Linked DNA regions of Homo sapiens. The protein of the gene in region 1 purifies or fractionates together with the protein of each later gene. This does not show direct contact. Each region holds a gene or a part of one and is shown in the gene's direction. Other genes may lie near its edges.

What was found.
Region 2: the proteins of PNO1 (region 1) and MTMR3 purify together in Homo sapiens (affinity purification with mass spectrometry; 3 studies listed by BioGRID and IntAct, with this or other methods). This does not show direct contact.
Region 3: the proteins of PNO1 (region 1) and MYB purify together in Homo sapiens (co-immunoprecipitation; one large-scale study listed by IntAct). This does not show direct contact.
Region 4: the proteins of PNO1 (region 1) and WDR3 fractionate together in Homo sapiens (co-fractionation; one large-scale study listed by BioGRID). This does not show direct contact.
Region 5: the proteins of PNO1 (region 1) and NOC3L fractionate together in Homo sapiens (co-fractionation; one large-scale study listed by BioGRID). This does not show direct contact.
Region 6: the proteins of PNO1 (region 1) and LRRC47 fractionate together in Homo sapiens (co-fractionation; one large-scale study listed by BioGRID). This does not show direct contact.
Region 7: the proteins of PNO1 (region 1) and KSR1 purify together in Homo sapiens (co-immunoprecipitation; one large-scale study listed by IntAct). This does not show direct contact.

The regions. Positions count from the first base shown.
Region 1 is NC_000002.12:68,160,888-68,164,387, forward strand, and holds part of PNO1 (RNA-binding protein PNO1), read left to right. Parts: intron 1-795; coding exon 796-879; intron 880-1,377; coding exon 1,378-1,438; intron 1,439-1,658; coding exon 1,659-1,776; intron 1,777-3,500. UniProt on the Homo sapiens protein: Part of the small subunit (SSU) processome, first precursor of the small eukaryotic ribosomal subunit.
Region 2 is NC_000022.11:30,028,771-30,031,368, forward strand, and holds the end of MTMR3 (phosphatidylinositol-3,5-bisphosphate 3-phosphatase MTMR3), read left to right. Parts: 3' UTR 1-2,098; downstream 2,099-2,598. UniProt on the Homo sapiens protein: Lipid phosphatase that specifically dephosphorylates the D-3 position of phosphatidylinositol 3-phosphate and phosphatidylinositol 3,5-bisphosphate, generating phosphatidylinositol and phosphatidylinositol 5-phosphate.
Region 3 is NC_000006.12:135,212,308-135,215,807, forward strand, and holds part of MYB (transcriptional activator Myb), read left to right. Parts: intron 1-3,091; exon of another isoform or gene 3,092-3,193; intron 3,194-3,500. UniProt on the Homo sapiens protein: Transcriptional activator; DNA-binding protein that specifically recognize the sequence 5'-YAAC[GT]G-3'. Plays an important role in the control of proliferation and differentiation of hematopoietic progenitor cells.
Region 4 is NC_000001.11:117,939,739-117,943,238, forward strand, and holds part of WDR3 (WD repeat-containing protein 3), read left to right. Parts: intron 1-1,088; coding exon 1,089-1,202; intron 1,203-1,385; coding exon 1,386-1,487; intron 1,488-2,011; coding exon 2,012-2,109; intron 2,110-2,698; coding exon 2,699-2,806; intron 2,807-3,500. UniProt on the Homo sapiens protein: Part of the small subunit (SSU) processome, first precursor of the small eukaryotic ribosomal subunit.
Region 5 is NC_000010.11:94,338,940-94,342,439, reverse strand, and holds part of NOC3L (nucleolar complex protein 3 homolog), read left to right. Parts: intron 1-694; coding exon 695-767; intron 768-1,943; coding exon 1,944-2,007; exon of another isoform or gene 2,008-2,012; intron 2,013-2,092; coding exon 2,093-2,164; intron 2,165-2,519; coding exon 2,520-2,701; intron 2,702-3,500. UniProt on the Homo sapiens protein: May be required for adipogenesis.
Region 6 is NC_000001.11:3,779,499-3,782,998, reverse strand, and holds part of LRRC47 (leucine-rich repeat-containing protein 47), read left to right. Parts: intron 1-235; coding exon 236-338; intron 339-1,397; coding exon 1,398-1,487; intron 1,488-1,662; coding exon 1,663-1,911; 3' UTR 1,912-3,500.
Region 7 is NC_000017.11:27,459,448-27,462,947, forward strand, and holds part of KSR1 (kinase suppressor of Ras 1), read left to right. Parts: intron 1-3,500.

The DNA.
Region 1 (3,500 bases):
TTTACATTTGTTGAATACGTGGTCTCTTCAACTAGACTGTGAATGTGCATGGGACAGTGGAAATAACAGTTTTGAAATCAGACCTGTGTTTAAATCTTACCTTTTTTGCTTTTTAGTACTTTAGTTTCCTCACATACGAAGGTAGTCATATCACTTAACATTCAAAGTTGTTGTGAAGGTTAGAGTTATGGTGTGTAAAGCATGTTATTTATAGTACGTGTTATTTACAGTGGTAGGCTTTTTATGAATAACAGTTATTTCTGCATTTCTCAAATAAACTTTGAGGACAGGTTCAGTGCTTCATTCATTCTTTATTTCCCCAATCAGTGCATGCAGGTAGTTAGGCCTGGAGCTGTTGGTTTAAGAAACATCAGCATATAAATGATAACTAAGAAGATTAAGTCAGGAATCCCAGGGAAGACTGCCTTGAGAGAGAAGAGAAGAGGACATTGGGCATTGAAGGGATGGACAGAAGGTAGAGGTTCTTCAGAATGGGAGAGATTGGGTTGTGCCAGAGGAGTCTTGCTGTTAACCCCAAAATCTGATCATATAGTGCGGTTAGTTATTTGACACTCTTTGGGTGGAACAGCCAAGCTTTGGAGCTGGGAACGTTTTGTTTTGCAAATAAAGTACAGCACTTATCTGACCAGAACCTGTGTCATACAGAATATATTAGGGAAAGGTGGTGGTGAAGGAAATTCTCCAATAATGGGAAAGGACATTTCCAGTATTTTGTTAGGACATTTTCTGTTTGATTCTCAACGGTATTTTGTACCCTTTTTTGTTTTTTAACAGACTTGTAAAGAAACCAAGGATGTTAGTGCTCTGACAAAAGCAGCTGATTTTGTGAAAGCTTTTATTCTCGGCTTTCAGGTGGAGGTGAGTAATTCCATGATATCTAAAATGGGGACTTTAAAAATATTCAATGTGAACATTTCAATGGATTAGGCATTAAAAAAAAAAAAGGCCAGGCACAGTGGCTCACACCTGTAATCTCAGCACTCTGGGAGGCTGAGGCAGGTGGATCACTTGAGGCCAGGAGTTCAAAATAATCCTGGCCAACATGGCGATACTCTCCATCTCTACTAAAAATACAAAAAAATTAGCTGGGTGTGGTAGTGCATGCCTGCAGTCCCAGCTACTTGGGAGGCTGAGGTGGGAGAATCACTTGAACCAGGGAAGCAGAGATTGCAGTGAGCCAAGATCACGCCACTGCACTCCAGCCTGGGCGACAGCGTAAGACTCTGTCTCCAAGGGAAAAAAAAAAGCTTTCTAGCTCTAGAGTTTGTGGATTTTAGTTCCATAGTGCTTTGCACTTTACTCTTTTTCAGGTGTGCAAATGGAAGGGGCTTCACGGTGTTTGTTTTTATATTATAGGATGCACTTGCCCTCATCAGGTTGGATGACCTCTTCCTAGAGTCTTTTGAAATTACAGATGGTGAGTGTGTGTTGGTCTGCGCTCTTGTGTCGCTGACTTTGTATTGTGATGTGACTCTCAGTTTTCTAATAGCATCAATTGAGCTGTATTTTTAGCAACTTATATATATATATATACACTTTGTGTCCTTTAGAGAAATTTAGTTTATGATTAAACTTTATGTGGAATGGGTGGTACACTAGAATGGCTTGCCTCCTGAGATCTTGCTTTTCTTGTTTAGTTAAACCCCTAAAGGGAGACCATCTATCCAGGGCAATAGGAAGAATCGCTGGCAAAGGAGGAAAAACCAAATTCACCATAGAGAATGTGACACGGACAAGGATAGTTTTGGCTGATGTGTAAGTATCTGATCTTGAGAAAATTATTGTCATAATTTATATTTGATCTTTTGTTTTAAGAAAGTCATAACAGTTGTATTTTATGCATAATGTTGCTGCTAAATCTTTGTCAGTGCAGATGCTCCTCATAAATCCATCATAAATTGAAAATATCATAAGTCTAAAATGCATTTAATATGCCTGACTTATGGAACATTATAGCTTAGCATAGCCTATCATAAACATGGTCAGAACACACATTAGCCTGCAGTTGGGCAAAGTCATCCGACACAAATTCTACTTTATGACAGAGTGTTGAATATTGAATACTGTACTAAAAATGAAAAACAGAATGGTTGTATGTGTATTTGAAGTAGAGCATTCTGAATGTGTATCACCTTTGCACCCTTGTAAAGTTGAAAAATCCCAGTTCGAACCGTGTTAAGTTGGGAATCATCTGTATACTTTTGGGTGAATAGATGGTCACCAACTTTGAAAGAGGCTTAAGTTGAGAAAATTTAAGAAATTATATATTCTTTTCTCATTTAACAATGAGGAAATGCTATTAAAAGAAATTATTACAGGTGAAGATTTAAATAATATCTCGGGTTGGGCACAGTGGCTCACGCCTGCAATCCCAGCACTTTGGGAGGCTGAGGCGGGCGGATCACCTAAGGTCAGGAGTTCGAGACCAGTCTGGCCAACATGGTGAAACCCTCTCTCTACTAAAAATACAAAAATTAGCCGGGCATGTGGCATACGCCTTTAGTCCCACCTACTCGGGAGGCTGAGGCAGGAGAATCACTTGAACCTAGGAGGAGGAGGTTGCAGTGAGCCGAGATCATGCCACTGCACTCCAGCCTGGGCGACAGAGTGAGACTCTGTCTCAAATAAATAAATACATACATACATACATACATACATACATACATACATACATACTTACTCAAGGGAATCTATTAAATCACTAGGGGAGAACAAGCAATCACTATTTCAGATGCCCTTGTGAGTCTTTAGAAGTATATATCTACTTTATGTATATACATATATATGTTAAGGCCTTTTATAAAAGGAGGGGAATATCGTACATTAGGCAAAACTAGAGAGCAGTTATATGTGAACATAAACAAGATGAGAGGGGCTTAAAATAAAGGTGCCAGAAGTGAAGCTGGGATTACCCCTGTCTGAGGTTGAAGCTGCCCAGGCTGGGGATCTTACTGGCAGATGGCTCAGAGATTATATAATGCCATGAAGTTGGGAAACTGAACAGTTGACTGAGAGGAGGAGGGTTCTGCCTATGACTAAATTCTGAAATAATTTCATTTAATATCTCAATTTTGCTCCATACTGAAGGACTCTTCATTATATAGAACCTAAATTTTGTACATTCTTTACACTTTAAGGATAACTATACTACTGTGTTGGTGGCCCTCTTTACCTGAAGCCAGGCATATAATTATATTGTTTGATCTTTTATGGATTGAGCCTAGAGTCAGAAATATGGAGCCTTGGGAGAAGCTATTTTGAACTGGAAATGTGCAAATGCACACCACATTTAAAAATATGGCCAAGCATGGTGGCTCACATCTGTAATCCCAGCACTTTGGAAGGCTGAGGCAGGTGGATGGCGTGATCTCAGGAGTCTGAGACTAGCCTGGGCAACATAGTGAAACCCCTTCTCTACAAAAAAATACAAAAATTAGCCGGGTGTGGCGGCCCACACCTGTAGTCCCAGCTACTTGGGA
Region 2 (2,598 bases), on another chromosome or scaffold:
TAGTGTGAAAGCCGTAAGTGCCACCCAGCAGGCGTTTGAAAACAAGAAATCATTCTTCTGTGGAAGGAGAATGTGCCATCTCAGCTACCCTCAGTCCGCCAGGCAGCCCAGTCTGTGTATTCATATGAAGTTGTGAAAACCATGAGTGTGTGCCATGGCCATCGTGTCTACACACAGCCACTATTGTTCCTGTGGGCTAGTCTCCAGCAAATTAAAACACTGGCATGGCCTAGGAAGGGCGTTGCGAGCTCCTAAATGGAAAGCTTCTCTGGGGGTAGGGAGATGAAGAGCCAAGATGCTGGTGAAGCAGGTGCAGTGAGGATCCAAGGCAAGGAATTGCCCTGAGGGAGGTGGCTGCATATGGAGAAAGGCAGTTCTCTGTGGGCAAGGCCAGCTTGCTTCAGGCTGTAGAGGGAATTTGGTCTGAAGCAACAGGGCATGAACTGTGACTTTGAGCTGCCAGGTTGTCTTCATCTCAGAACTTTCCTATCCTGGCACTCTCGTTACCTTTCTTCTATACCTTGGCCTCTGTAACTGCAGTCCAAAACAAGTTACAGCTGCCTTAATCCACTGAGATTCTCTATGAGGATGTACAGAAAAGTTTTCCTGTAATAATTTTGCTTATATGCTAACTCTTTTCATGTTAGCAAAGAATATTCTATGAATTAGAATGTTACTGTGGTAGATCTAAAGGAGAATGAACAGAAGGTGCTGGAGGACCTGTTAAACAATCTCTGGCTATTAAAAAACATCAAGATGAGAATTAAAGGCATATCCTGATATACTTGCCTGCTTGCACATGAGGCTGGGAGATCCCATGCCTGTTGAAGTTAACTCTAGCCCTGACCTCTATTGATCTTTTGGGAATGAGGGCTGATTTGAAGGTGCTGTTGCAGGATTTCATTTAGCTGCTGCCAGTTCAAGTGACCTGTCCCCAGGGCTGCAGCTGTATCCACCTGATTGCAGTAGGTGAGGGCTAACAGCAGAATTTAAAGTGGACCCTGGGCTGTGGAGCAAAGTGACTATCCATTTGGACTTTTGGATAATGTGGCAGGAGTCCCAGCTGTTTAATTTCTAGTCACATTTTCCAGAAAGTTGTTCTAAGTTGAGATTACTGACAAGATTTCTCAAGGGCAGGACCAGATATGTGAGAGACTTCTAGTTCAGAGCTGACCCCTCTAAGCCTCTGACACTTAAACACGAGTCCTGCTGTCCCCAGCACACAACTGCACTGAAGCCTTGTTCCTCTCGGCTGGTGTAGAGCTCATCTGCATGTTGTGTGCAGATACCAGTAGCCTCCCTGCTTGAACAGGCCTCTCCTAGGCTAGGCAGGTGTTCAGAGGCATGAAGGTCTGGGCAGGGGAAGGGCGTCTTCTGAAATGGGAGTTACCAGGTTTTTAAATGCTGCTATTGTTTTATTTACCATTTAAGGTCTTTTCTATTATATCTGAGTAACTAGTCAGTTTTTCTTACAGTGCTCATAGCAGTTGTATTTGAATTGTATTTTCAGTGAAATTTGTTTTACATTGCCATTTAAAATTGGCCTTTAACAGCTTCCCAACTAGCTTATAAGATTTTTTTTTTTAATGAAAACATAACCCATGAGGCTCAGATGCTGTTGAAGAAATAAATGGTATGTTGCTGCTGACAGTAGTGCTTGCCTATTGTAACAGCATTGGTTCTGCTGTAGCCTCGGTGACCATTTAAGTTGAATAAATCTGTCATTTTCACCCACAAACAGTTGTTGAGCCCCTGGATTTGGGTTGTCACTGTGGTTCTCCTGCCAGTGCTATAATCCAGTGTCGTAGGTGCAGGGTATGAATCAGCTCAGCCTCTTAGGAGAGAGGGGCTCTCAGCGAGGAGGGGGCGGGGGGGGGGTCACTATTTATCTTCCAGAGGCAGGGTTCATGGATTCCTGATGTTTAGAGGCGGAAGGGACCTTAGGTCACCTACTTCCACGGTTTTCATACTGTTCTCTGGGGCCTCGTGGAGAGGGAGCCTCCAGGCCCATTCAAAGCTTTATTAGATTTAAAAGTAAGATCTGGTATGAAGAAAGGTTTTGTTTGTTTCTTAAAATAAAAAGTCTGAAAATCACTAATCCAATCTCCTCCTTTTTCATTGAGGAAACTGAGACTCAGAGAGGGCCAAAGACATCCAGATTACCAATGAGTTAACAGCAAAATTTGAATAAAAGTCATTCTTGGCCAGGCACAGTGGTTCATGCCTGTAATCCCAGCACTTTGGGAGGCCGAGGTGGGAGGATCACTTGAGCCCAAGAGTTCAAGACCAGCCTGGGCAATATGTTGAGACCCATCTCTACGAAAAATATAAATAAACCTGTCTCTACAAAAAATATGAATAAACTAGTCAGGAATGGTGGTGCACACCTGTAGTCCCAGCTACTTGGGAGCCTAAGGTGGGAGGATCTCTTGAGCCTAGGAGTTTCAGGCTGTGGTGAGCCATGATCACGCCACTGCACTCCAGCCTGGGCAACAGAGGGAGACCCTGTCCCATAAAAAAAGGAAAATACTTTCCCGACTCCTAACCCTCTTCTTGTGCTCTTGGGCCTCCAGAAAGCCTGATGTAAATAGCTGTATT
Region 3 (3,500 bases), on another chromosome or scaffold:
GCCAAGGCTTTTGAAGCCAGCAGATACTGGGTGAAGTTGCTGTATGAATATAATAATAAGAACCGTTTTTGTTCAGCTTGATGAAAAAACTATTCATGTTCTAAATGAAAATGTGAAGATCATCTAATTCTGACAGAAAACCACCTGTGGACATGGTCTTGTTTCTTTTTATTTCTTCTGTTTTCTACAAAAGATGGCAATATTTATTTAAAGTGCTTTAACAGGATATCCCAGTTAAAGCTTTGACAGACTGTTTATAGTTCACTTCTGCCCAGGGGCAATTAAAGGCACATTACAGGATAAGCGAGATGACTCCCCGGCCACAGGAGGAGGATGTGTGGGTAGGATTATTAATGTTGAAATGAATTATGATAGAGTGACATGTCTGCAAGAGCACCATGGGTTAGTAACTTAACAAGAATTCATATGCAGAAACCCATAATTCTCAGCAGTTCTTTAGGGTAAATGAAACTAAAGTTTAGGGAGAGAGAACAAGGAGAATTTGCAAAGATATGTATGACAGTATTTAAAAATGTTCTTCCAGCACAAAGACATTAATCTTCCTTTGTCAAAATAATTCTTTCTGCATGAAAAGTTGGCATGGGGCTCCCAGGCTTCAGGTAAGATGGGAGAAAGGGAGCGTTTCTTTTTTTTTGTACCAAAGTACTCAATCTTCTGATCTTCCTTGACTTTCACGACATAGGCATATGTCTACTCTGACCAGTTTGTTTCATTTATTGTGGTAAGATGTGCTTGTCTTGTGCTTTCCTGGTGCAGAAAAGGAGCTGCCTCGCTCATGCTTGGTGGCCTTTTTGTTCCTACACACAGTGGTTCTCGTACATGGTGGCTACCACATCCTGGTGTTTGTCTATACTGGGAGAATCAGGCGTTCCAAGTCATCTTGGCTGCCCTAGCTCTGAGCTTCAGGGGATATATGACTCAGAAATGCTATGCTTTCTGGAATTTGGATATTTCATTTTTATTTGTTTCTTGGTAAATTCTCTTTTGACTTAGGAGAAGCTAACTATTTGGAAAGGTCTCTCAGAACTCTAATTACAAATATATGGTACCTTCTTTATATTGATCTCATTTTTAAATACCTAGTCCTGGAGGAAGAGCTAAATATGAATACAGTGATGAGCTGTGTAGGGGATCTCACAGGAACACAGTCAGATTTCAAGTTGAAAATAGATTCAGTTGATAATACTTAGTACTAGATTCTCCTGAATCGACTTTGGGAATTCTGAGTCAACCTAAGGACTATATTACAAAGGATCAGACCTTGACTTTTAGGCCAGGTGTAGTGGCTCATGCCTGTAATCCCAGCACTTTAGGAAGCCAAGGCAAGTGGATCACTTCAGTCCAGGAGGTTGAGACTAGCCTGTGCAACACAGCGAGACCCTGTCTCTACCAAAAATACAAAAATTAGCCAGGTGTAGTGTAGCACCTGCCTGTAGTCTGAGCTACTGAGGAGGCTGAGGTTGGAGAATCAACTTTAACCCCGGATATGGAGGCTGCAGTGAGCTGTGATCATGCCAGCCTGGGCAAGGAGCAAGACCCTCTCTCAAAAACGAAAACAAAAAAGACACAGAACTTGACTTTTAACAGGAGGCATAGTAATAGCAAGCATAAGATTGTTTTAACATAGCATTTAAGATAATTTACGCATTTAGAAAATTAATTCTGGCTGGTTGTAGTAGCTTATCCTTAATCCTAACCCTATGAGAGGCCAAGGCAGGAAGATCACCTGAGGCCAGGAGTTTGAGACCAGCCTAGGCAACATAGCGAGACCCCCGCTCTCTACAAAAAATTTTTTTTAAAAAACATAGCTGGGCATGGTGACACACTCCTGTAGTCCCAGCTACTCAGGAGGCTGAGGCGGGAGGCTTGCTTGAGGCCAGGAGTTTGAGGGAGCTGTGATCACGCCCCTGCACTCCAGCCTGGGCAACAGAATGAGGCCCTATATCTAAAAAAAAGAAAAATGGACAAGAAAATTCTATATTGATTGAAGCCCAGCTAAATAGAAAAAAAAAAATTCTAATAGGCCATTTTAAAGACTTTGGAAAAATTCTTAGCTAGAGTAAAACAGAAGCAATCCTTTCTTTCCTGGTTCTCACATCTCCATTCTCACCTTCATTCCCCTTCCCCTCCATTTGTTTCAAGTATTTTTCTTTTCTATGTGTGTCTTTATGTAAATTTAAATTTACCTACAAGATATTATGATATTAAGATATTTCATTCTGCTTCCTGTTTTGTCACTTGTTCTTTAAGATCCAAGTCCTTGGCTCCATGTGCATCTAATCCTTGCCATAAGCCCTGCATCGTACTTCATATTCACCATATTGAACTATTCACCCTCAAGTAGTCACTATTAAATGTCACACTGTTGTAGCGACTACAAATGCAAGCTCAGTAACTGAAAAGATAACATTAAATTTTGTTTTTTAATTGGTTTCCTGTGTCAATTTCATGTTTCGGGAATTTGTATGGACAGATAGACACCAGAGAGATATGCGTATTTCACCTGCATGCTTGAGGCTAGAGAAACATGATTTATTCAGAACTATTTCAAATACTGTAACTAACCTGGTAATTTTGTTTAGGAAAACATTAAATTCGGAATAGAAGGCAATTCAGAATACCTGTCTGTTATCTTTGTCTTGTCATTTTTGAGATACTCAGTTCCTGGAAAATATTATGATAATCCATCTTGCTATGTAGTATTTCAAGTTATATGTTGAGCCTCTGAGCTTGCAGAGTGAACATTTCTATTCATAGACAGTGCTGTTGACATCAGTGGGGAGATGGCACAAGCTTTGTGCCCTAGGAAAGTTTAAAAGCTAGAACATTACACTGCAAACCCTATGTCAGGAAACTTTGTTGCAGCAACTAGGCAAGGAAACCCTACCACTGTACCCATACCTTGTTTTAGTAGAATTATGTTTCTTTGCTAAGAAGTCTGGTGACTCTCACACCCCATCTCAGCACTTTCCTGGATTCCAAGGCCCTGGTGCCCTGAGCACACAACTTCCCAGGTTCCTTTTATTGTTTCTGATAAGAACTCGAATTAGAGGCAGCGTCTGGTACTCACCAGGGGTGTGGTCCCATGGGTGACATTCTTGCTCCATCATTTCTTACCCAGGTAACCTTGAGTATGGCGCCTAAATCCTCTCTTCCTTTCAAATTGCCTGGTCTGTAAAATGGATGCAGTGAATGGTAGCTATGCCACAGGTGTTTTGTGTGAGAATTAAATGAGAGGAGTTATATCAATAACACTTAGAGGCATGCGGTGCCTATAGTGAGGGCTTGTTTTATGTTGTCGTTTAACCCTTTCTTTCTCAGCCCTCCCCCACTCCACATCCCCTCCCACTGGCAATGTACAAATTGCAGCTTCCTGCCTCTTTCCTGCTATCTCGCTCCCTGGATGACATCCCTGCGTTTCCACCTCTCTCTCCCCTAATCTTAGCTGTTTTCACCCTTTCCCCACAGCATTGCCTTGA
Region 4 (3,500 bases), on another chromosome or scaffold:
TCCTTATTTATTTGAGCTCAGGTTAGCTTTAGGCTTACAGCTTCTGGTAATACTAATGTTTTAGTTTGTGGCACTCTTAATCAGATATTCTTGGACCTTTGGGTGTCCATGGATGGCCTTCAGAATATCTGTGAACCTTTCCCCTCAAATATATATGTAGAATTTTATGTTTATAAATATGTATATTCTGAAAAGATCTATAACTTTTTCTTAGACATTCAAAGAATTTACATAGAAGAAAAGCTTGCAGACCTTAGGTTTAGCTGAATTTCGGTGTGTGCTGGGTCCAGCAGCCATTTCGATGGGAGTTACATTAGTAGGCTAGGGGTTATCTTTTCTTTATTTAAGGAGAAAATGTATCTACCTGTCTTGCGATGCTTTTGCAATTCCTAATGCCAATTTGAATTTTTTGTTCTATAATATGGTCAACCTTTCACCTAAATACAGAAAATTTTGAAGTTAGTGAAGAGTGGGGTCATTATTTTTTCACCATTGTCACTAAACAGTAGTCCTTATGCTATAGAAAGTTTTTGGAGATAGTATAATAAGTAATATTTTGTTTGTATATTATGTAGTCAGTTTTTAATAAGTTCTGATACCTGCCTTGCTACTGAAGAGGTTTGATAAGGGAGATCACTGATTAGAAGCTGTTATTGGCCATAAGAAAGATTTCTAAGTCTTCAGGATTAAGAGTTACCTCCTGGGCCAGGCACAGTGGTTCATGCCTATAATCCCAGTACTTTGGGAGGCTGAGATAGGAAGATCACTTGAGTCCACACACACGTTTGAGGCCAGCCTGGGCAATATGGCAAGAACCTGTCTCTACAAAAAATTTAAAAATTAGTCAAGCACAGTGGTGTGTGCCTGTGGTTTCAGCTATTTGGGAGGCTGAGGTGGGAGGATGGCTTGAGCCCAGGAGATCAAGGCTGCAGTGAGATGTGATCATGCCATTGCACTCCAGCCTGGGCGACAGAGTAAGACTCTGTCTCCGACAACAACAACAACAACAACAAAACAACAACAACAACAACAACATGCCTCCTGGAACATACTATTTCAGCTTTTATTTTCTCATTTTTATAAAACAGATTGAAGACCCGGAAGAACCAGACCCCAAGAAAATCAAAGGATCTTCTCCTGGAATACAAGATACTCTTGAGGCAGAGGATGGTGCCTTTGAGACGGATGAAGCCCCTGAGGATGTAATTCATTTTCATTTCTTAAGTTTAATTGTGTTGAATAATGGGAAAGTAAGAATTGCAGATTTTTAGGGAATCATCACTTTAGGGAATATTTTTGTCACTTGCACTTATTAGAATTATGTTTTTTTCAGAAGTTCAGCAGAACTTACATCTAACCTTCATCTGCTCTTGCTTCTTCTGTAGCGAATCCTTTCATGCAGAAAAGCTGGTTCCATAATGCGGGAAGGAAGAGACAGAGTTGTAAACCTTGCAGTCGACAAGACAGGCAGGATTCTTGCTTGCCATGTGAGTACCATACTTAGGAGAAAATAACAAGGACTAGGCTGTTCCTTCCAAACACTCATTCTTTCATATTCAATGTAAAGATGACTTTTTCTTGACTCATGTTAATAATTCATTATATGGTACTGTGTGGACCTATAATCTCTAGCTTTATTAGCATAACAACAAAAATATTAATAATTACTATTAGGTTGGTGGAAAAGTAATTGTGGTTTTTGCCATTTAAAAAGTAATAATTGCAATTACTTTTGTACCAGTATTATTATTAGCAACCATTTATTAAATGCTTGCTCTTCTAAGCAATTTAAGAGCATTTAACTTCTTGTTCAGCCTTCAGAGCAATGCTACAAGTAGGAAATGGTATCCTCATTTTACAGATGAGATAGCAAACCCAGAGAGATTAAGTTGTCCAAGGTAATACAACTACTAAGGGAAGAAAAATAAATATTGTTGTTTACTTTTAATTGAGAATTAGGTAAATTACAAATTACCTCTCCTTGACTCACATTAACCTTTTGCCTTTCTAGGGAACTGACTCTGTGCTAGAATTGTTTTGTATCCTTTCCAAAAAGGAAATTCAGAAGAAAATGGATAAGAAGATGAAGAAAGCTAGAAAGAAAGCAAAGTATGTTTTCTTAATACTTACATTAATAATGAAGTATCCTGGGTAGGCCCCATGTTACTGAAAAAAAACTGGCTTCTTTCATATTTACTGTCTTATCAATTACCATTAAAAGTTAAAGAACTTGTGAGGTATCGATAACCCAAATTTGTCAAGTCTCAGAGAGACAGAAAATCATCTGATTTGGCAAATCTTTTGATACCTATTCTGGTTTATTTAACATGGTTGGATTGTTAAGTGCAGGTTAATGAGTTTTCTAAAAAGTCCTGAAATTAGAAAAATAACCGGAGACATTTCAGTGGAATAGTTGGAATTACAAGGACCTTGTTACAAGAAATTTTATGGGCTATTGCATTCAGAATCCATTTCTTAAGGGTACCTATTAAGTGAAATAATACTTTATGACATTGTAGTGTACAAAGCATTTCCACTTATACTACATTGTTTAATTATCATGGTAATCCTGTGTGGTTAAGTGACTTTTCCAGAATAACACAGTTTGTTGGTCAAGGGGCCAGATTTTGAACTCAAGTAAGAGCAAAGCTGCTTCTAGAAAAATAAGAGCATGATATACTTTTCTTCTTCCCTCTAGATTACATTCTAGCAAAGGAGAGGAGGAAGATCCTGAGGTTAATGTTGAAATGAGTCTGCAAGATGAAATCCAGCGGGTGACTAATATAAAAACTTCTGCCAAAATCAAGTGAGTAAAAATAAATTATCTGAAGTTATAGAAATAGTAAGCTACCAAGTATTATTGGCTTTTTCATGCTATTTGTAAGCTGTCTGTATGAATTATATATGTGGAGACGGTGGTCATGAGACATCTGTGTCACACTCTGCTCCTGTTGTCCTAATCATGGGCCCACTTTTTGTCTTGTATTTGGATTATTATAGTACCCTTTTTAGCTAGTCATTTACTGTCTTTTCCTGCAGCTAATTTAAGAAAAAGAAAAGTGTGTCCCACGTTCAGAAAGGATATAAGGTCACTTATAAAGAATACATACACAGAACCAAAGTATGTATCAGAACCAGGATCTGAGCCTAGTTTTTTTTTTTTTTTTTTTTTTTTACTTAAAAGCCTACTCAGCTACTACTCAATACTCGGAGCACTCTTTTAATTTTTTTTGAGATGGAGTCTTGCTCTGTTGCCCAGGCTGGAGTGCAGTGGCATGATCTCGGCTCAGTGCAACCTCCATCTCTCAGGTTCAAGCGATTCTCCTGCCTCACCCTCCGCAGTAACTGGGATTACAGACTTGTGCCACCACACTCAGCTAATTTTTGTATTTTTAATGGAGATGGTGTTTCGCCATGTTGGCCAGGCTGGTCTCAAACTCCTGACCTCAAGTGATCCACCCGCCTCGGCCTCCCAACATGCTGGGATTACAGGCGTGAGC
Region 5 (3,500 bases), on another chromosome or scaffold:
ATGTCACTCATAAGGTCTTTTATTCTTCTAAGATTTACATAGATCAAAGACTTCTTGCTAATATTGAAGAGATGTCCTGACTTTAACCTACTTCAGTGTCTACTATAGTATATGGAGTAACTCTCAAATTTAGCAGCTCATATGATTCTTCTTTAACCCTATTGGGTGGTCTCAGTTATTTCTACAAATAGAGGCCCAGGACAGTGAAGTGAGTTACCTAGGATCACGCAGGTAATTAAGAGCAGAGCCTGAACTAGATACTGGGGTCCAGTATTCTTTCCATTTTATCCTTAAAGCTGTCATAAGGTCCATATTCTTGTAAGTAGCAGAATCTTTCCTTGTCTCTCTTCCCACCACCTGTTTTCTTAGAAGCCGATCCTGCCGGATACCTCCTAAACTTTCCTCAGGAAGTTGTTTGCTTCTAGTAATTTCTTTCTCAGTGCAGAAGGATTTTTGAAATATTTTTGGTTTGTTCAGTGCCTTATATATTTCTACTGAGTTTAGTGTTCAATGGTGTATGAATTGTTGAAGAGGCCAATCTGAATTAATGAAAAGTATCAATAATTGCCATGTCTTTCATAGCTAACATTTCGAAATAAAGAATATTAAAAATACAGTTTTAAAGTCAAGCTTAATTTCTACCAGCTTTATTTCTGCTTTTAGTTCACTGATTAACTGTTTTGTTTGATTCCAGGTTTGCTCACCTTATAAATGTGGAATTTTTTGATGATCTGTTAGTAGTTCTTCATACTCTCATTGAGTCTGGTGTAAGTAATAATAAATTATTTTTTAAAAGATATAAATGGTAATTACTATTTTAAAAATTTTTCAGGTTTATTGAGATATATTTTGTATACAGTAAAACCCCTTTTAGATGTACAGTTTATGAATTTTGACAAAGGCCTATGATCATATGATTACCACCACAGTCAAGATGTAGAACGTTTTCAACCATTGGAGAGTTTTAAGCAGGAGGGTTGTCTGACCTGTTTTCTTTTTTTTTTTTTTAAATTGATGCATAATAGATGTACATGGTTTCAGGGTATATGTGATAATTAAATATATTCATATAATATAGTTTGTAAATATTTTACTTGGGATATCAGTCACCTTAAATATGTGTCTTTATGTGACAACCATTCAAATTCTTCCCTCCTAGCTATTTTGAAATAGATAATAGATTATTGTAAACTATAGTCACCCTGTAAATCTGCCTCATACTAGGTTATCTTAAAGATAACCTTTATAGGTCTTTTTTTTCTTTTTTGAGATAGGGTCTCACTCAGTTGCCCAGGCCGGAGTGCAGTGGTGCAATCACAGCTCACTGCAGCCTTGACCTTCCAGGGCTCAGGTGATCCTCCCACTTTAGCCTTTTGAGTAGCTGGGACTACAGATGTGGGGCACCATACCTGGCTAATTTTTCTATTTTTTTGTAGAAATTTTTTTTTTTTTTTTTTTTGAGAGGGAGTCTTGCTCTGTCACCCAGGCTGGAGTGCAGTGGCGTGATCTCGGCTCACTGCAAGCTCCGCCTCCCGGGTTCACACCATTCTCCTGCCTCAGCCTCCCGAGTAGCTGGGACTACAGGCGCCCACCACCATGCCCGGTTAATTTTTTGTATTTTTAGTAGAGACAGGGTTTCACCGTGTTAGCCAGGATGGTCTTGATCTCCTGACCTCGTGATCTGCCCGCCTCGGCCTCCTGAAGTGCTGGGATTGCAGGCGTGAGCCACCGCGCCCGGCCCTGAGAGATGGGTTTTTGCCATGTTGCCCAAGCTGGTCTTGAACTCCTGGGCTCAAATGATCTGCCTGCCTCAGCCTCCCAAATTGCTGGGATTACAGGCTTGAGTCTTTGCTCCTGGCCTTAAAGTTCTTTTTTAAAGCTATAAATGGCAATTACCATTCTTAATATTCCATCCCCCTCACCCCCCCCTTTTTTTTTTAAAGGACCTAAGCTATCAAGAAAGTCTTCACTGTGTCCAGACTGCTTTTCATATTCTTTCTGGACAAGGTATGATATTTTCTTAATCAAGTTTTGTTTGCCTTACCTTTGAATGCTATAACATACCTAATTGGTGTTTGTTGTCATTTCAAAGGTGATGTTCTGAATATTGATCCATTGAAATTCTACACACATCTCTACAAAACACTGTTCAAATTACATGCAGGTATGTATGTTTAGATAATGTTTCTTTTATATGTATTTATGTTTTAAGAATATGTTATGACCCATCATTGTAGACAAATGAGAAATAGGAACAGGTACATAAAATGGTGACTTTCCAGTGCCATGCATCTGTATTTAATCTTATGTAAGACTTGGAGAAAGAGCTTCTGGAATTGACTGGAGATGCAGTAAGTATAGCCCGCTGTATCTCCTTAGCAGTATAGCACTACCTCATTGATTAGAGAAATGGTTTGGGACAGGTACAAAAGTTTATCTTGGGTTTATCTGAAGTTCAGTCCAGTTGCGTAATGAAAAAGTAATGAGAACAGCTCTGAAGAATATGTCTGCTGTTTTAGGTGCTACCAATGAAGGTGTTGAGATTGTACTCCAGTGCCTTGATGTCATGCTAACTAAGCGCAGAAAGCAAGTTTCTCAGCAGCGAGCTCTTGCCTTCATCAAACGCCTTTGTACCCTTGCTCTTCATGTTCTTCCAAATTCAAGTATTGGCATTTTAGCAACTACCAGAATATTAATGCATGTAAGTAGTGATACAAATGAACAGAGCTAAGTTCTTATAATGCAATGATTTTTTTTGTTTGAGGCATGTCTTTTCCCCCCTTTTATATTATTTCAATTACAGAAGTAATTCACACTTGTAACAAAATCAGGTGACAAAAGAGGTATATAAAATTGAAAAAAAGCATTTTATACCTATTGACACTTCTCAGTGTCATTAGGTGGGTATCCATTTACCATTTGGTGGGTATTTTTCCAGCAGCCTTTTAAAGTTCATATATAAACACATACACATAGAAACAACTCAACTTTGTATTTTAATGGAAAGAGGATTATGCTATATATTCTACCACTTTTTTAACCTTAGCATTTAATCATGGTAAACACATTATAATGTCACTACTCTCTTTATGTAAGGTTTATTTAATTCTTTGCTTAACAAACACCATAGTTCTGACTATGTGCCTTCCAGTTATAAATGCCTTACAAAAATTTAATTTTCATAACTCTGAGGTAGCTACTATTCTTGTTCCTATTGTACATGTGGGAAAACTGAGGTCCAGAGAGGTTAAGTGTCTTGGCTTGAGTAGCAGTGCCAGTCAGTGGTAGAAGTGATATTCAAATGTAGGCAGTCTGGTTTTTCTGCTTCTTTCTATTTCTCTTGATATAGGTTATTTCTTTTTTTGCTATTACAAATGATGCTATAGTGAATATCTTTATGTATTTATCTGATGTAATTATTTCTATCAGATTTCTAAAAGTGTGATTGCAAGGTGAGAAGCATATTTTTTTCTTTTGCAAGATAAAATTAATTTTCAAAG
Region 6 (3,500 bases), on another chromosome or scaffold:
CTGGTTCACTCCTCTTTAGGCAGCCTGGTGGTCCTCCACTCCCAGGAGCTCACCATAGTGATGACAGACTTAGCGTAGACACTCCATTGGCACAGCACACCCCAGCCAACTCCTGGGCCCATGCAGCCCTCCTGTCTCAGCCTCCTGAGTGCTGGGACCACAGGCACATGCCACCACACCCAGCACAGTGTTTCTTTTATAATTATGCCTGGAATTTGTATTTCTTCCCATACAGATACCTTCACTTGCTGGATGGAAATGAAAATTACCCGTGTCTTGTGGATGCAGACGGTGATGTGATTTCCTTCCCACCAATAACCAACAGTGAGAAGACAAAGGTAGGGTGGCATGTGTGTGAACATGGTGTGTCTTCTAGGCTGTTCCCTGTAGAATTAACACAAGTCTGCGGGGCGTGGTGGCTCAACACCGGTAATCCCAGCATTTTGGGAGACCGAGGTGGGCGGATCACCTGAGGTCAGGAGTTCAAGACCAGCCTGACCAATATGGAGAAACCCTGTCTTTAGTAAAAATACAAAATTCGCCGGGCGTGGCGGTGCATGCCTGTAATCCCAGCTACTCGGGAGGCTGAGGCAGGAGAATCACTTGAACCTGGAAGGCTGAGCATAGTGGCACATACCTGTAGTCTCAGCTACTCAGGAGGCTGAGGCAGGAGAATCGCTTGAACCCCAGGAGACAGAGGTTGCAGTGAGTCGAGATCGCGCCATTCCACTCCAGCCTGGGCAACAAGAGTGAAACTCCGTCTCCAGAAAAAAAAAAAGAAGAGGAAGAAAGAAAAAGAATTAACACACACAAGTATCTGCTGCATTGTGAGGTTTCATTGTGTGCAATAGAAAACGCAGCCCAGAGGGGTCAAAGGGCCCCCTGGCTTCTCAGAGCTACAGCTCACTGTTCATGCTCGGTGCTGCGTGACGGCCCGGGATGCTGTGTGCAGCACTGCAGTCTTCCTCTGTAAGGAGTGGGCTTGGTGTGTGTGACGCCATCTGCTTAATTGATTGATTGAGATAGGTCTTGCTGTGTTGCCGAAGTTGGAGTGCAGTGGCAAGATCATAGCTCACTGCAGCCTCAAACTCTTGGGCTTAAGCGATCCTCCCATGTCAGCCTCCTGAGTAGCTGGGACCACAGGTGCATGGCACCACACCTGGCTAATTTTTGTATTTTTTTGTAGAGATGGGGTCTTGCTGTGTTGTCCAGGCTGGTCTTGAACTCCTGAGCTCAAGCAATCCTCCCACATCAACCTCCCAAAGTGCTGGATTTACAGGTGTGAGCCACTGTGCCTGGCCACACAGTTTTGTAGATTTTTCCTGAGAACAAATGTTGCAGTTGCTGATGTCTACATTTGATAACTGTTCTTTTCTGAAATGTTTTTTTCTTTTAAGGTTAAGAAAACGACTTCTGATTTGTTTTTGGAAGTAACAAGTGCCACCAGTCTGCAGATTTGCAAGGATGTCATGGATGCCCTCATTCTGGTGAGTGTGGGGTGGCTCCTCCTGAGAAACGCTTTTGAGCGTGAGTGGTGCTCTGCTCCTTGACTTCCCACCCGTCCTGCTTGCCTCTTTTTTGCTTACTGTGTTGGCAGACAGCAGCATGTCTTCCCTGGGTCACCTCTCATCTCCAGGTTAAAAAGGTATTTTTTATTTGCAGAAAATGGCAGAAATGAAAAAGTACACTTTAGAAAATAAAGAGGAAGGATCACTCTCAGATACTGAAGCCGATGCAGTCTCTGGACAACTTCCAGATCCCACAACGAATCCCAGTGCTGGAAAGGACGGGCCCTCCCTTCTGGTGGTGGAGCAGGTCCGGGTGGTGGATCTGGAAGGGAGCCTGAAGGTGGTGTACCCGTCCAAGGCCGACCTGGCCACTGCCCCTCCCCACGTGACTGTCGTGCGCTGACGCCAGGGCCGCCTGTCCGCGTTTGTTTGGCCGGTTTTGCGGAGGTTTCTATGCGGCAATGCTGAATTATCCGTTAGATTTTCACCCCAGTTTTTTTGTTGGTTTTTTTTTTTGAGATGGAGTCTCGCTCTGTCGCCAGGCTGGAGTGCAGTGGCGTGATCTCGAGTCACTGCAGCCTGTGTCTCCTGGGTTCAAGCGATTCTCCTGCCTCAGCCTCCCAAGTAGCTGGGACTACAGGTGTGTGCCACTAAGCTCAGCTAATTTTTGTATTTTTAGTAGAGACGGGGTTTCACCATTTTGACCAGGATGGTCTTGATCTCTTGACCTCATGATCTGTCCACCTCTGCCCCTCAAAGTGCTGGGATTACGTGATCCACCCGCCTCAGCCTCCCAAAGTGCTGGGATTACAGGCGTGAGCTGTGCCTGGCCCACCCCAGCATTTTTTAAGATGTATGTATTCGTTGTTCTGTTTTTCCAGATGATTCTGTCGTAAAGTGATGCTATGTTGTCGTTACAACATCAAAGTGATTTTACGGTTTTTGATGGGATTATTCAAGTGTCAGAATTAACTGTTCAAAATGTTCTGAATCATGTAGATACATGGCAGGTAACTGTTTATGGGAGAAAAGTACAGTGCTGTTACGTGGCACTGTACAGTCATGTGCCACGTAACAGCGTCTGGGTCAGTGACGGACACTTACCTGACAGCGGATCCACAATATTCTCGTGCAGTGTGTTTGGAATCCTGGTCTGGGCTCTCGTCGTTGGCCTTGTAGATCAAGTAGGGGAAGTGAGTGATGTTCAGTCATGCTGCTGGGACACTTGGTTTTCCAGATGAAAACACATAAATAAAACTACATGCACCATCGAGGCTTGTGTAAAGACTCTGTGATCACACAGCAGCGGCTAAGCACACGTTTCTCATGTGTCACTGAGCGACACGTGACTGTCACTGGTTCGGAGACCCGAAAACTTGGGAAGCCAACCGATGTGCGTTTCCTTGAACGGCACGGTCACTTTCTATGACGCAGCATCTTGTAAAACCATATCATGCCAGGATGCAGCTTGGCATGTGCAAGGGCGTTGGGTTCTCCAGCTGGCAGTGATCATAATCTTGGGGGGAAAAGTTTTAATGTGACCTTAGAATTGGCAGAATTGCGTCTCTTCATACTGCTGTTGGATTGCTTTGTGGGGGTGGAGATGTGGAGACCCCTTCAGGCAAGCAGCCTGTAGGCTGAAGGCAGTGGCAGCACCTCACCCTGGCTCAGCGGGGCCAAGCGGAGGAGAGCGGCATCGGTGGGGTTTCCATCGTGTGCACGCTGGTGCTGCAGTGACAGGCAGGTGGAGCCCCAGGAGTGGACCAGACGCCTCTGCTTGGGAAGCATCGGCAGTCCTCAGCCAGCCGAGGGACAGATGGTAGCAAAAGCTGGAGGATGCTTAGGTTTTTGAGCCAAAAATCTTCATTTATGCGCCAGAAAGGTGGGTCCTGGGCGCCTTCTGTTGTAGACGTTTCCGTTGTGAATGTCCAGGTCAGACCCCCACGTCCATGTGTCTTCGTGTATGTCCAGGCACCACATGTGCGTGCACAC
Region 7 (3,500 bases), on another chromosome or scaffold:
GGTGACACAAGCCAGGAAACAATCTCAGCAAGCTGGGTGGGACCGTCCACCGCCAGCAGCATGTGTTGGGGCCAGGCAGGCAAGTGGCAGTGTCCACTCCAGCGTTCTTTCCTGTTCTGTGGGCTCCCCACACACCAGGCCGTGGCCCCAGAGACTGTGCTTGCAACACTGGATTCCTGGCTTTTGAAGAAGGATCTGACCTGGAGGGCTTGGCCTGTGCAACTGCATCGGACTTATCTAGAATCTGAGGAGCCCCAGCTCACTCTGGCCTTCATTAAATAAACACTCAGTGGGAGAAGCAGCACGTGAAATGTCCGTGGAGGTCCCTGACCAGGGATGGGCTGCTGCTGCCTGAAATTGGGTTGTGATGGGGTGTAGTGGGTCAGCGTGTCTGGTTGTCCGGGGATAGCTTTTCTCTGTGTGGTGGTCCAGTTTGGATGGAAAAGGGTAGAAGGAGCTGAGACTTAACGTTTGCTGCCTGTGTGCCTAGCAGCGTGCCTGACTCTTCTCAAACTCACACACGTTCCTGGAGATCAGCAGTTTTCATCATACACATTTTCCCTCTCTAAATATAAAGGGAGGGAGGCACAATTTGAAACCAGGGTATTAATCTGTAAACAGAAGTTGTGAGGCTACTTCATCCTGGCAGGAGCTGGTGTTCTGTCTCCGCTAGACCCTCCTAGGGGTCTGAAAACTCCACCGAGGCAAACGGGAATGTTCTTATGCCCCAGTGTACTCACAGAGGGACACTTGGCCTGCCTAATAGCTGGGCCTGCAACCTATGCCAGTAATAATTACCTTCATTCCTTTGAATCTGCCCAGCGCTGGGGAGACAAGGGTGTGTAGAAGCAGACACATGTTGCCTCATGGAGATTTATGTTCCAGGGACATTGTGACTTGCCCTTTCCTGCCAGCCTACTAGTACTTTCCAGAGACAGGCTCTGCCATGCTGAGTCTCCCCACCTTGTGTTCTTGTGGAGAAAAATCCCTCCTAAGCAAGCTGGCGTGGAGAAAGGGGCTGAAGGACTTTGACCATCAGGCTTTGCTGGGGGAGGTGATGTTGGCAACTGTGGTAGGTGCAGAGTCAGGCTGTGCTGGGAGGCGATGTTGGGAACTGTGGTAGGTACAGTCTCTGCCCTTGGGCTGCTTTCCTGAGCAGTTGCCCTGGAGCCGCAGGGGGTCAGAGGGGAGGCCCTCCTGCCATCTGGAAGGTCAGAGAGGCCTGGCCCTCACACAGCTCTGCCGTGGCAGAGGTCAGAGTCCCACCGTGTGGGGGACCTGAGCTCTCCCTATGCCTCCCAGGAGCATCTGATGATGGAACTGCTGGGAGAGGGGAGGGGTGGCATTCCTGCAGATTGGGTCCTTAGGGTGTGTTGAGGCACGTTCCCTGGACAGACCTTTAGTTACTGTTGATGTGCTTACCTGGCTGGCAGCCACCTAGCAAGGGCTCTGAAGTAGGTGGGCTGTTCTCCCAGTCTTTGGGGTCTAGGGACAGTTCTAGTCTAGTGAAGGAGCCAGGCAGGGCACAGTAATGACTTTAGTAGCACAGCTTGCAGGACCCTGCATTGGGAACCCCACTGAACCCTTGGCCCATCCAACCTCCTGGTTTTTTTGTTTTGTTTTGTTTTTTGTTTTTGTTTTTGTTTTTCTTTTAGTCAGAGTCCCACTCTGTCGCCCAGGCTGGAGTACAGTGGCATGATCTCGGATCACTGCAATCTCAGCCTCCCAGGTTCAAGCAATTCTCCTGCCTTAGCTTCTGAGTAGCTGGGATTACAGGCATGCCCCACTATGTCCAGCTAATTTTCGTGTTTTTAGTAGAGATAGGGTTTTGCCGTGTTGGCCAGGCTGGTCTCGAACTCCTGGCCTCAAGTGATCTACCCACCTTGGCCTCCCAAAGTGCTGGGATTACAAGTGTGAGCCACCTCCTGGTTTTCTGGGAAATATTCCCAGAGTCTTGGGGACTTCTCCCAAGTCACAGGTCCCTGGCAGAACTGAGACTGAAACCTGGTTTTGCTTTCCCACCCAGCCACTGTCTCAAAGTGTGGCGTTTCTCTGCTTCTGCTCTGTGGCCACAGTTGTAACCCTCTGGCCAAGTGGCTCCAGCCGTCTCTGAAGAGATACAGAGCTGGGGCTCTGGCCCTTTTTTGTGTCCACTTTCACCCGGGTAACTTTTTCCCTGGTGAAACCTACCTCCCAAATGTTTCTTAGAGGCAGCCTGGAGGGAGACCCGCAGTGGCTGTGAGCCTGGGGAGGGCTGGGTGGTGCTGGAGAGAGGTCTTATCAGATCTGGAGGTGTGGTTTGCTGCCTGCAGCTATGGGAATGCCTTCTTCCACGTCAGGGTTGTTTCCTCTTCTTGGAGTGGTCTGGGCTGCCTCAAAATCCAGGAAAGTGCGCCGCAGGTATTCTACTCCTGCCCGCTGGGTGTGTCTGGAGATGGACCATGCGGAGACGCTGGCCCACGGTGGCAGTGTCTGCAATGCCGGGGAGAAGCAGCAAAGCCTGTGGCCAAGTCTCTCTAAGCTATGCCTTTTTAAAAGGCCATCCTTTCAGAAGAGGCTGGTTGAGATCTCTTTTTTATGTTTAATTCAAAGGGAAAGCTGCATAGGTGCCTTTGGGGTTAGGGGAATGATCTTGGAGTAGAGAGGGCAGACACAGATGAAGAACGTGCTTGATCACCTGTTCTATGTTGAGCACTCCACTAGGCTCTCGGCATATGTTGCACCTTAACATTCACAATGATGCTATGAGGCCTTATCCTGATGTTGCAGATGAGGGAATTGCAGCTCAGAGGGATGGAGAGACTGTCTTAGCAGGTGGTTGAACCCAGGTTGACTGGTCTTGAGAACTTATGTTCAGAACTCCACAGCTGTTGCTGTGGCGGGGAGATTCTGTGCAGGGCCATGGTTGCTGAGACCAAGGAAATGGCCAATAATAAAAAGGGCTGGGCCGAGGGCATTCCGTGGCTCAACTCTAGATGTTTGGGCTTCCTGGTGGCCACCCAGGCTGTGCAGCCTCAGGGTTCGGGCATGGGTCTGCTTCCCTAATGTCCAGGCTAGCACATCCTCAAAGACAGGACTCTCAGCACCATGATGCAGCCCGCTCTACGCTTGTCTCATTCTGAGAAAGGAGAAGCTGCCTAGAGATCAGTTTACTCATAATTTTTTAAATGGCTACCTGTCTTATTCTTTCTGAACAGTTCCTCTGATAAACAGTGTATTCTTTAACTTTCTACTTTTAATTAAAATATTTACAAAATACATAATGATATATGTTCACTATAAAAAAGAAAGTACTAGATGTACAACAGTGAAAATCACCCATAATGCCACCTCTCAGAGTTAATTCCAGTGCACATTTTGTTGTATATTCTTCCTGCATTTGCATATAAATGTACATGTGTATATTTGTGGCACATACCATGTGCATTGCCTTGTAAATGTCTTCTGTCTGTATCAGCACATATACATATGCATCAGCACTATTAGTGGCTGCATTGTGT